Linked DNA regions of Homo sapiens. The protein of the gene in region 2 purifies or fractionates together with the protein of the main gene of each other region. This does not show direct contact. Each region holds a gene or a part of one and is shown on either strand. Other genes may lie near its edges.

Evidence for each region. The genes of interacting proteins can lie anywhere in the genome.
Region 1: the proteins of ARHGDIB (region 2) and OARD1 fractionate together in Homo sapiens (co-fractionation; one large-scale study listed by BioGRID). This does not show direct contact.
Region 3: the proteins of ARHGDIB (region 2) and NAMPT fractionate together in Homo sapiens (co-fractionation; one large-scale study listed by BioGRID). This does not show direct contact.
Region 4: the proteins of ARHGDIB (region 2) and ITIH3 fractionate together in Homo sapiens (co-fractionation; one large-scale study listed by BioGRID). This does not show direct contact.

What each region holds. Positions count from the first base shown.
Region 1 is NC_000006.12:41,064,272-41,066,814, reverse strand, and holds the end of OARD1 (ADP-ribose glycohydrolase OARD1), read left to right. Parts: 3' UTR 1-2,043; downstream 2,044-2,543. UniProt on the Homo sapiens protein: ADP-ribose glycohydrolase that hydrolyzes ADP-ribose and acts on different substrates, such as proteins ADP-ribosylated on glutamate and O-acetyl-ADP-D-ribose.
Region 2 is NC_000012.12:14,955,102-14,958,601, forward strand, and holds part of ARHGDIB (rho GDP-dissociation inhibitor 2), read right to left. Parts: intron 1,233-3,500; exon of another isoform or gene 1,075-1,232; intron 1-1,074. UniProt on the Homo sapiens protein: Regulates the GDP/GTP exchange reaction of the Rho proteins by inhibiting the dissociation of GDP from them, and the subsequent binding of GTP to them. Regulates reorganization of the actin cytoskeleton mediated by Rho family members.
Region 3 is NC_000007.14:106,282,184-106,286,366, reverse strand, and holds the start of NAMPT (nicotinamide phosphoribosyltransferase precursor), read left to right. Parts: upstream 1-1,383; 5' UTR 1,384-1,482; coding exon 1,483-1,539; intron 1,540-4,183.
Region 4 is NC_000003.12:52,804,796-52,807,046, forward strand, and holds part of ITIH3 (inter-alpha-trypsin inhibitor heavy chain H3 isoform 4 preproprotein), read left to right. Parts: intron 1-466; coding exon of another isoform or gene 467-577; intron 578-1,012; coding exon 1,013-1,045; intron 1,046-1,307; coding exon 1,308-1,343; intron 1,344-1,497; coding exon 1,498-1,611; intron 1,612-2,105; coding exon 2,106-2,251. UniProt on the Homo sapiens protein: May act as a carrier of hyaluronan in serum or as a binding protein between hyaluronan and other matrix protein, including those on cell surfaces in tissues to regulate the localization, synthesis and degradation of hyaluronan which are essential to cells undergoing biological processes.

The DNA.
Region 1 (2,543 bases), on a different chromosome or scaffold from region 2:
AAAAATAAAAATTTGGGGAGTTAGTGAGGTTCTGTGCTTATGTCTATTTGTTCTGGACATGGGTAATGGAGGGTTCACCTGCAACTTAATTTCAAACAGTCAGACAAAGGGTCCAAGCGGGAGGAGAAGCAAAGTGAGAAATAAGAGATAAAAATAGACAAGTCAAAAGGCAGGTTTTTAGAATCTCCTCATGGTGAACTTTTTCTCTCTTTTGTCCACTGCATGGTTTCTGTGATTGAACCTGCCTGAATTTAATCATGAAAACAAGTGAAATAATGTATGTTAAATGCCTGGCAGAGTACTTAGCACAGACTAGTGACCCAATAAATCAGTGATTGTCAAAAATCCTTATGAGTCTTCTTTAAAAAAATAAAGGCCACTTCCTCTCAAAAAATTCTCATACCTGTCATCTCAGCACTTTGAGAGGCTGAGACTGGAGGATGACTTGAGCCCAGGAGTTTGAGACAAACCTGGTTAACATAGCGAGACCCTGTCTCTACAAAAAAAAAAGAAATTAAAAATTAGCTGGGCCTGGTGGTGCAGGCCTGTAGTTCCAGCTACTCTAGAGGTTGAGGCGGGAGGATGGCTTGAGCCTGGGAGGTTGAAGTTGCATTGAGCTGTGATTGTGCCACTGCACTCCAGTGTGGGCAACAGAGCAAGACCCTATCTCAATTAAAAAAAAAAATTTGGTGGTGGAGTGGGATGGCCACTTTTGTGTTTTTAACCTCCATAGAAGATTTGGATGTGCAGCCAGCTGGGGTCTAAATATTAGTCCTCTTTTCTTCCGAAGCTGCAAAGACCAGTCGTCTATTGTGGTCATGGTAGGAAAATAAAGTTCATGGATTTAGCCAATGGTTCAGTATCAGAGCTATTCGGGAAACTAGACATTTTCTTGTTTTCCCTTACAGTGGTGTTGAGAGTTAAAACAGCCAGACTTGCTATTGATTTTCTCCCTAGAGTGACTTTGGGTCTGTCACAGGACTTGCTGCTTTCCCAAGTATAAAAGAACAACTGTATTTTAGAAGGGGCTGGTTAAAACACCAGGAAAGTACTGGTTAAATATAATCTTTGTACTTTAGACTGTGTTCTTATCACATATCAGCCTGATAAGAGGCAACAGTTTCAAAAAAGTATTTCACTTTTGTATTTCTAGGTGGAACAGACAAGTTCTTCATGTTGTTGGGGTAGGGGCAGTGGAGGGTCAAGTTCATTATCAAACTTTTAGATTGAGGCTTTTCTTGAAGCATTGCTTTTGTCCACATAAAGTTGAAGGGAAAAAGGAAGGAGAGATTATCTAAATACACAAAATTGAAAGTGAGAGTGGGGGATAAGAAACTTAAAGAAACTTAAAATATTTTGCTTAACTCTGCAATTACAGATGCTCCTCAACTTAGGTCTATGTCTGGGTAACCCCATCTTAAGTTGAGTTCAGTTGAAGGGTGTACTGAATGTGTATGGCTTTTGCACCGTTGTAAAGTCCAAAAATTGCAAGACAAACCATTGTAAATTGAGTACCATCTGTAAACCTTAACACAAGTCAAAACATGGATTTTCTAGGCTTCCTTTACTTTTAAAGAGATTATGGTTATTATTATTATTTTTTTCTTGGCGTTTGAGCCTTGATTCTTTAGACAAAACCTAGTCTCATTCAGGATTGGCTGTAAGTGGAATTCTGGGACTTAGCAGGAATGTGATAAAGCACTTTGTCATTTGCCGATAGTAGTCTTGGGTCAAATTCCGACGACTTATCACACTTGAAGCCTGAGGAAAGGAGGCATGCCCTGGTAATCAGAGTGAACACATTATTCCTGGAAACCTAGTTAGAGTTTGGCAAACACCCGGAAATTCACCTGTGAATTTTTGCTTCCACATAGGACTCAAACAAACCTTTAAAAAAAAAAAAAGAGAGACTTGACATCATCCTGCCATTACCATCAAACACCATGTATTGAATACTTTTAAATGATTGTATATCTGAACATTAAACTACTACTTTTCACCCGCTCCTCTCTAATAAAGAAGCTAGTTGCTTATTAACTGGCATTTGGGATGTGGCTACCTTAGATTTCTCATGCTTTTTGTTCCACCTTCTGCCCTATTACTTGCCTTCAGAGAAGGGAAAGGCCCTCACTTGATTGTCGTAAGAAGTCTGTATGGGAGAGTTATTCTGCATTGTCTAGGCAAGTCTTGGTTTAACCATGGCTTGGTTCATAGCCTGGAGTGTCCCTGTGTCTGGACTAGCTCGCTTGTCTGTGGCAACTTCCAGATGTTCAAGTTTCTTAAAAATCTGGCCACGGGAAAAACACACCACTTCTTTTATTAATGTTGCTGTTTTTCTTTTTTTAAAAAAATACCCAACTTAACATAAAATGCATATTTCAGAAATCTAAACCTCGGGTCTGAGGCTGTTTGTGTTAAGCAGCCCCCTTGGGTGAGCAATTAGGACCTTCAGTCCCATAGTTGACTGGAGCCCATGTATGGTTGCATTTCTCTCCTTGCAGGTCACTTTCGTCCTTCCCGAGAGCAGCATTAGAGAGAGAGTC
Region 2 (3,500 bases):
ATAATAAAGGGTACCATAATAGTAATAGCAAATTGTTACTGAACACTTGTGAGCCAAAAACTCAGTTAGTACGGGATAAGTGCTTGGCATGCATTATTTCATTCAGTCATCGCAATGTTGTGAGGTAGGCACAATTACATTTTACAAGTGCAAAAACTAAGACATAGAAGAAAATATTAAATATTTCAATTACACAAGCATTTAAAATTCCTTTCCTAATATCACCCTATAGACAGTGAAAAGAGTAATGGTCTGGATTCTAAAAATGAGACATTCGCAATGCATGTATTAACAAGAGATTGATATCGGGAATACATAAATACCTCCTATGAATCAATTTCTTAAAAAGTATTTATTGTATATATTTAAGATGTAAAATATGTCTGGGATACATAGATAGTGAAAAGGTTACTATAGTCAAGCAAATTAACATATCCATCATCTCACCCACTTTTTTTTGTGTGTGGCAAGAGCACCTAAAATCTACTCTTCAGCAAAACTCAAGTACAATACAATATTATTAAGCATTGTACTGCATTTTTAACGTTATTTCTGGGTAACCTCAGTTTCTCCCGAAGCCCCAGCCATAAATGGCATATACAGTTTGACAATGATTTCTCAAATTATCTGTGTGCATATTTAACCACAAACAACAATTTTCTCTTTTTATCCTCCTATTTTATGGATGTGTGTTGAAATGAGAATAGGAATTTTATGAAAATTCTACAGACTGTTTTCCAATCCCATCATCTAAAGGACAACTGATTTTCCTATTGATAATATTGATATTATTAATACAAATTATAATAGTTATCACATGTAGTGCTAAGTGCTTTCTAGAGGATTATCTCATTTAGTTCTTACAGTAACTTTGTTGGCATCATCATTCTCTTTTCCAGACCAGGAAACTAAAGTTCACGTTAAGTAACTTGCCTAAGAAGACATACCACGTGGTAGGCAGAATTAATGTCTGCGCCCAGGTTGTCTGACTTTTAGGCACTATGCTTTATTGCTTCAGTCATCTTTAAGAAGTTATAATAAAATTAGAGTTTGTTAGTCATCTTGGGAATCTACCTGGAGGTGCACAAGCAGAGGTAAATGCTTCTTTGCAAGCTCTGCAGAGACAGCTTTAACAAAGCAGGGAAGTGTCAGATAACGATGTTTCAGCGCAACTCGGTTCCTGCGTTACCTCCTGCAAGTTGCTTAACCTCACTGGGCCCCAGTTTCATCCTCTGCAAAAAGAAGCCGTGGCATGAGAGGATCTCTGAGGCCCCTTCTTAATTTAATGACTCAAATGCTCCCTAATTTAAAGAAGCTTGTGAAATGAGAAAAGAAAAGAGGAAGTAAAAGGGAGATTGGGGAGGACTCAGCCCATCAGCATAGAATCTTCTGGATGGGCTTTCCTCACCTTCCTCAGCTGCTCATCCCCTATTCTACAAAGGGCAGAGCTGAGTTTTGCTTATTTTTGACTTTGGTCCTTTGCACAGGAAAAATGAAATGGAGAATGAACAGTTATATGTTTAACCAGGTTAATGTGGACCCCATTTATTAGGCCCCAAAGCACATATCATTTTTTCACACAGGCTTGCTACTCTAGTTTTCTGTATTTTCTGCTTCACAGATGCGCATACAGATTAACTTTCACATTGGAGGCCTCACATCCTCATGTTTGCTACTCAGCAAAGCACTGGCAAGCATTAGATGTGCTGAGATGGGGACTTAATCTTCTCAGGCTCAATTAAAATGTCGAATTAAATTAGGATGGTTACTCACAGCATGCATATGACATAGCACACATCAATGTTTTTGCTTGCAAATTCAGTGAAATTTCCAAGACTTTGAAAGTGAATTACACTTAAAAATTTACACCCATGTCAGGATAGAGCATCATCTGTTTCATTAATGCAGCTCTAAATGAACTGAGGACAAGAAAAGGTAGAACTCCTGAGTTTAGATTAAACAAATTACCTGGGTAATTCAGAGAAAGGTGACTTTCATGTCTCATAGAACATAGATTGAGTCAGATGGACCAGGGATTCAAAACCAGGCTCTGCATTATGACAGGACTCAATCAAGTTGCTAATTTCACTGAGCCTCAGTTTTATCACCACTAAAATGGGGATATTCTTTTTTACGGGGTTGAAAGATTGGAGAAAACACATGAAAAATTATAGGACTATACTGGTCAAGAATAGATGTTCCGTGAATATTTGTTCCCTTCCTCTTCTTCCTTCCCTGCCCCAGTGTGGTCTGCTTTGTTGCAAAGCTTCACTGAAGCTAGGTAACTGTTTCCACACCAAATACTTTCCCCTGGATGGGAGCTATGTCCCCACTCCTTCCTCCTTAAAAATAGATTTTTGTCTTTGAGGAGTATTAAAGAGATAAGAAGTTCTGGGGAATTGAAAGGATTGTTTAAAAACTGAATCAACCTTAAAATGAGACTATATTATATTTCTTTTAAAAACTTTCATGTAAACAATTTAATTTTAGGTTTTATTTATTGCTCCCTGTCTTCATTGAAGCCAGAGGTCACTCTGCGAATGATGAGAAATGTCAGTGAACACAGGCACAGCTAATGAAGAGAATTCCCTCTGGCTCTGGAGCAAAATACCACAGAGACTTAACTCACGGCCCAAAGCTGGATCTGCAAAATTGTGCTGGATTATGCATCTAGACACACAGGCCATGGATATTAATGTATTAGGTAGAAGAGATAGCGATGAGAGAGAGAGAAGGAAGAGGGGAAAGAGGGAGAGAGAAAGAGGAGAGAGAGAGGAGGGAGAAGGGAGAAAGAGAGAGAGGGAAGAGAGAGAGAAAAGTGGAAATACCAGAAGTAGGGGATTTCTATCAGAGAAGTTCCTATGTGAGCATCAGCATTCTCTGTAACTCCTGCTACCTCCACTTTCCCTGCTGACTAGGATATGTCTGACTTCCCCCAAATCGGGCTGTGGGTCTAGTGCAGGTCTGGAGAGTCAGGCCATCTCTAAAACACTGTTGACATTTCAGAGCTAGTCAAGGATTTGAATGTGCTGTGCTGCTTGCCTGGCAATTTGGTGTATTACGGGATTGCAAATTTGTCTCTCAGGACACCAGAAGCCTTCTTGGTTCGGGATTCCACCCTCTCCCCACCGCCCCTGTCCCTGGTGACATGGAGGAATCCATACTCCCCACTTTGCGGTGCTGCTTTCTACCACCTCAGCCCCATGAAGGACTACGAAAACTTCAAAACTGGATGAGAAAAACCAAAGACAAGATTATTTTGTAAGAGACAATAAATATTGTAATCAATCCAGAGAAGGGCACAAATTACTAGAAACGTAATTTCTTACCATTTGTCTTTGTGAGAGAAACAATTTATTATTTCTTGCCTGTGCATTTTTTAGTGTGTTTTTCTAACCCACATTCATATGCACAAAGAGAGAGAACTCAAAGAGATCCCGTGAGCTTTGCTGAGTGCCCAACGTGTGAAGTCATGCCACCAAGTACCTTCACAAATATTA
Region 3 (4,183 bases), on a different chromosome or scaffold from region 2:
GATGAGGTGATTGTCAAAAATATATACTGACTTCAAGACATAGTGTTGACTGAGGTTGTCTTTATTAGAAGTCTCAGCCATGCCTCCAGTTTCGAGATGAATCTCAATTCACAAGTTCCACTATGAATCTCAATTCACAAGTTCCACTACCACCACCACCATCACTGCCCCCAGATAGAATGAGACTTCTAATAACTTGAAAGACAAGTCTATAAATATCCTGTAATCGTTTTCACTGTATCACTTTTTCCTGGCTACTTTTATCCGATAAAAACCTCAATTTATTTTTAAGCTATTAAACATGCGGACAAAGGGAATCTTAGTTTTATGCAAAAACGCAACCACGCATGAGAACTGCGCAAGTCTTTCTTGGAATGGTCTGTATTTGGGTGAAGTCATCAGACGTCATTACACTTCTTTATTTTGGGGTTGCCAACTCGTTTCCCAGGATTTAAAGACTATAACGATGATAAAAGTCAGTGTCGCACCCTGTCAAAGGCTTGGCCCGTTGCCTTTTCCTTCCCGGCAATACTCGGTTCAATTAGGTCTTGTCCCCTCATTATCTGTGAGGACTGAATTCCACCCCCGCTTTTCAACGCAGGCTCTTTGCTCGGGAAAAGTCAAACCATCTCTCAAAGGATCAAAGAGCTCAGCCATAGACAGAGCCGCCGGAGGAAAGCGGAGTCGCTGCATCAGATGAAAGGGGCCCCTCAGCCTCACTCCTCACCGCAGCTCCTGGGATCTTAAAGACAGGGTCAGGAGGATCAGGAGGGACAAGAGGGATGGAGGCGAAAGGCTGGATCCTTAATCCAGGCCGGAGACAAAGGTGAGTAACTGCGCGTGGTGGACGGGAAGATGGGCAGTAGGAGGCTCCTCGCCCCCTAGCCGGGTGGCGTGACTTCAGGAGGACCCAGAAAACCGGCCAGGACTGGGTAGGACGGAAGGTCCCAGGCGGGGCGGGCGAACCGGCTCCTCGTGGCACTGGCAAAGCTGGGAACGCCCCCTCCAGGCCCCGCCCTCCCGCGCCCGTGCCGGGAACTCGAACTTAGGTAAGCGCCCGGGTCACGCGCCGGGGCTGCCCCGCTGCCTCCAGCTTCCCAGAGCTGGCGTCTGGGAGGAAGAGCGCGTGCATCACGTCCTCCTCCCCGCCCCGCCTCCGCGCACTGCGCAGCGCGCTGCCGCGCCCCGCCCTTTCTCGGCCCCCGGAGGGTGACGGGGTGAAGGCGGGGGAACCGAGGTGGGGAGTCCGCCAGAGCTCCCAGACTGCGAGCACGCGAGCCGCCGCAGCCGTCACCCGCGCCGCGTCACGGCTCCCGGGCCCGCCCTCCTCTGACCCCTCCCCTCTCTCCGTTTCCCCCTCTCCCCCTCCTCCGCCGACCGAGCAGTGACTTAAGCAACGGAGCGCGGTGAAGCTCATTTTTCTCCTTCCTCGCAGCCGCGCCAGGGAGCTCGCGGCGCGCGGCCCCTGTCCTCCGGCCCGAGATGAATCCTGCGGCAGAAGCCGAGTTCAACATCCTCCTGGCCACCGACTCCTACAAGGTAAAGCTCGGGGCCCGGGCAGATGAGGAGGAGCGGGGCGCGCTGGGGACGAGCGCGCGGCAGGGGGGCGGGGGCGGCTGGGGCTGGGGTTGGGGCTGGGGCTGGGGCTAGGGTCGCGGCGCGGGGAGGCCCGGGGGAGGCGCGGGCGGCGGCGGCTGGGGCAGGTGAGGAGGCGCCGCAGTGGGCAGGAGGTGGCTTGAGGAGGATGGAGGGCTGGGCGGTGGAGGCGGGGCCTGGGGGCGCGCGGCGGCGGCGGCGCGGCGGGGGGCTGAGGCGGGCCCCAGCGGACTCCCGGGCGCCGGTGCTCGGGGCTCGGGGCTCGGGGCTTGGGCGTCGCCGGCGAGCGCATGCCCTTCCCTGAAGCGCGGCCTCTTGGCCTGGAGCTGGGACCAGTTAGGTAACGGCCCCGGGGACCCGCAGTGGAGAGTGAGCGGGGCTTTCCCCCGGGCCAGCCCGGCGCGCTCGCCCCTGGCTGGGCAGGTAAGTCTCCCGGGGCGCGAGGTGGGAGAAGTCCTGGCGCGGGCGCCGGAGCAGCCGCGGTCCTCTGCGGCTCCGGCGCGGAGGACACTCGCCTGGCCCCGGTAGCCGTAGTGGATTCCCCTGTCCCACTCCGCCGGGCTCCGTTTCAAACTCCTTGGCACCTAGTGATTGCTCGTGCTCCTTATCCCTGGGTGTAGAGGCCGCTCTGCTCTTATCTGCTTTAGGGTCATTACAGGATTTCTGTGAAAAGGAAAATGAAACACGAGGATTTAAAGGAACTGTAGTTTTAACCCTAGAGAACATGTGGAGAGGGAAATGGCACAGCGTTGCGTTCACATGCCCATTGAACACTTGTGTGGGTAGCTGCCACATTCAGTTGATATGAAGCACGCAGTAGTGAAGGGAAGAGGTAAAGTAAATTTTACTTGAGCAGCATAGTGGTTTGGAATACAGTGGTAAAACATAGTACTCTCATGTTTTTGTTTTGATTCTTTTTTTTTCCTTTGTTTTTAGCCCTCCTCCGATATTCCGAGAAAGTATTTTAGAGAATTCCATTTTACTTAAGTTTTGTCTGTTTTTTTCCAATCAGCTTAAAATGCTGTTTATGATATTTAGATAGGTTCTTGAAATCGAGCCAAGATCCATCAACAAGTTGTCTTTTAGATGCAAGTTTAAAGTATTGCAAAATCCGAACACTATCAAGTATGATTCTTGAATATTGTCAAGTATACGTGATAATACCTCAAGTATGGTCCTTTACTTGGTCCTAAAACCTCCTCTTGTGTTCTCTTGGTTCAATCATAGTGTTTTCAAAATTTTAAATAGTGATTTTAGAATAGCCTCATTGATAGTTTTGTAGAATTTTTTTCTTAACTAAATCTAAAATAACTGTCAGATTTTTTTTTTACATGTTAGCCAAATGTAAAGGGAGGTTGAATAGTCTAAATTTTAAAAACAGAAGAATGCAACTTCCTTTAGTTTGCAGTTCCTCTAACCATTATACATAAGGAATGTAAAATTACTTTAACATCAGTTTTCTGGGGTGCTTTTAGTTAGAATAGTGAATTATCTTAAAGGTTTCTAATCTAGTGAGCCATACTTAATTGCACTATTAGAATTTGCACCTATTTAATAAATTTTACTTCTGTCAACTTTCAAGTCAGACTGGTGTGTTTTATATCCTTTATAATATGAAACTTCAGAATATTTTCATCTTAGATTTTTCATTTTTTCCCCAAAAGTCACCTCTAGAGGGTTCAATCAAGTCGATATGTTTTATACCAGTGGCTTACCGCAGTATGCTAAAATAGATTGTGTATTCCACAGTCACATTTAAGTCTTAGGTTTCATTTCCCTTATGTTTTTAGGGGTCCTTATAACCTATTTTACATTTTTGTCTTTTTATCTTAGGAAAAAGGACAAAAATGATAATCTTGAGGTTAGAAGTAATGAAACTTATTTAGAAATTACACGAGAATGTTACATATCCTTATCAGTGCTTACAAACTATTGGCCAAAGTTGGGAACTCTAGTAGTTTCAGATGTGTTGATGAAGAGAGCAAAATATTGTTGATTTCTTCTTTCTAAAACTGAAGAAAGAATAATTGATTGCCTAAGCACTACGAAAGTTATTTTGCAAGTAGATGGTATGGTAGCAAGCACATGACAATGGGAGTTTTGTTTTGTCTTGTATCCTGTCAAGAGAGTCCAGAACTATTTGGACCAAAGGAGCATTTGAAGTATATACATTCACTTCTGTAAACTCATACTTTATTGTATATAGTAAGGAATTAAGGACACTGACGACTGTGGTTCCTCTATTTTCATCGTGGTTCTTGTTAGAAGTAAGGACACCGTTTAAACCGCATTATCCATTAGTTATGAAATGTGCTGTCCGGTGTAGGTTGCTTCTCAAAGGGTCATCTGTAAGCTGGTTATCTAGAATTCAGCATATTTTTAACCATTCATTTAATAAATGTTGGTGACCTATTGGGTATTATAAAAGAAGACAAAGATAAGTAGTATTTTGAAATCCAGGAGGGACAGAAGTTGATTTTATAGAAGTTTCAAAGAGCTGTGAAATTTATATATGGTGATTAGGAATTCAAGGCAGCTTTTTTTCAAAAAAAAAGAAAATTTTGCTTCCTCTAATGGCCAAGTAACA
Region 4 (2,251 bases), on a different chromosome or scaffold from region 2:
AGGCCTTTCCAAGCAAGATAGGACCCCCAGCCATGGGGGCACACTTGGGACACCTGGGCTCAGGCCCAGCCCTATTGCCAAATCATGAACGTGCCCCTCTCTGAGCCTGAGGATCCCTGTGAGTTAATTGGGGGTGGCTTCCCTTGCCCAGGGAGACACAATCAGTATGACAGTATCTATGACCTGCAAAAATGAGCAATTTAGCATGTCAGTCATTTATACTTCATTAGTCCCATAGCAACCCTCCAAGAGGGCCCTTTTATGATCCCCATTTTACAATGGGGAAATTGAGGCACGGGGGGTTAATTTGCTCAGTCTGTTTGCTCACAGACTCAGCAGATGGCCAAGCTGGTACTTAGGCCAAGGCAGTCTGGCCCCAATGCCCATGCTGGGAATTGCTGGGGATCACAGTCCTCTGTGCCTCTCTCACCACAAAACTGGAACCTCACAAACTCCCTGCCACTAGGCAGGGCCTCCCCAGCCCCTACTGGCCTGCCCCACCTCCATTTGGACTGGCACATTTGGACTGGGCCATCACATTCCCCTCAGAACAGCCCTGATAAATGTACCGGTGCATGTGAGTACATATATGCATGTGCACGCATATGTGTGCGCCTGTGTGCACGTGTGGGTGGGTGTTTACTATCAAGAAGCAACAGACAGCCGTGAGCCTCACTCACCCCAACTAGGGGGTGGGAAGCCCAGGGGTGGGGCAGATGTTTGCTGTGAGCATTACTCAAGAGAGAGAAGATGACTTAATGGCTTGCATTTCAGCCACATCAAAAAGCCCTGCGCCAACGTTAAAATCACATCCCATTGCCACCAGCCCCATAAAGGGCTTCCCTGGACGTGCCCGATTTCCAAAGCCTAATCTTTGTAGTCACATCTCCACCTCTATCTGCCAGTGTTGGGGCCCCTCTGGGGCCCAGCAGCGCTAAGACAGGAGGAAGGCACGGGGCTGGGGGAGAAGGAACCCCTAGACCCTGCTCACCACTGCCCTTCGGCTTTTCAGCCACACCGGTGAGCCCCGCCATGTCCTACCTGAGTGAGTACATGCTGGCAGCTGCCACTCCTCCCACTGCTTAGAGCCTGCCCCTGCCACATGTCCCTCCACCGTGGCTACTCACTCAGCTCTCCGGGATGGGCAGATGGACAATGTGCCCTGAGGAGATTGCGGGGTGGGAGGGCAATGGCATTAGCGAGCGGGAAGGGGAGGGGAGGGGCATAAGCTGAACTCCTATGGGGGTCGTCGGGCGCCTCCCAGGGCCACTTGCTTAGCTCAGCCCTCTCTCCCTTTGTATCTGCAGCCAGCTACCAGCCTCCTCAAAACCCCTACTACTATGGTGAGTCCCTGGCTGCTCCTCGGGAAGGCTCAGGGGCCTGGGCACGTGCTCCTGCCTGTCTCGGAGTCGAGCCCATGGAGGCCAGAAGGCTGGGGGAGGCCCCAGGTATGATGAGAGGCCCCGGGAGTCAGCTCCTTCTCTAATGTGTCACCAGTGGACGGGGATCCCCACTTCATCATCCAAATTCCGGAGAAAGACGATGCCCTCTGCTTCAACATCGATGAAGCCCCAGGCACAGTGCTGCGCCTTATTCAGGATGCAGTCACAGGTGAGGCTTGTGGGCTAGGGCCGGGGCCAGGGGGCTCTTCCTGGGAGGGCTTGGGTCCCCCGAGGTAGGCACAGGGAACAGGTTCTCACTCTGCCCAGTAAGGCATCATCTTCACATGCAAAGAAACCCCTGGGGGTGGGGAGTGCCCAGGGCCACAGGCTTGCTCAGCCCCACATGCCAGTGCTATTGGGAGATGATTAGCGTGAATGGACCACCTGGGCCTAGGGTAGGACCCAGCCTGTGTCTGGGGAATAGCTTTTCTCTGAACAACACTCCCTGGCCCAGGCAAGTGGCAGACCCATAAGGTCCCAGCATGACCCAAACCTAGAGTGTCTAGGAACCAACAGGCTTGGGCTCTGAAGTCCTGGTCTCTCTTGTGGCCCCCGCTCTGCTGCCCCTCAGCCAGTCTGGTTGAAGAGGAAGGCACACCCCTAAAGGCAATCTGGACTCAGAAGTTCTCGCTGGTCTCTCTCCCTGCCCCATCCCTCTGGCAGGCCTCACAGTTAATGGGCAGATCACTGGCGACAAGAGAGGCAGCCCTGACTCCAAGACCAGAAAGACTTACTTTGGAAAACTGGGCATCGCCAATGCTCAGATGGACTTCCAGGTGGAGGTGACAACGGAGAAGATCACCCTGTGG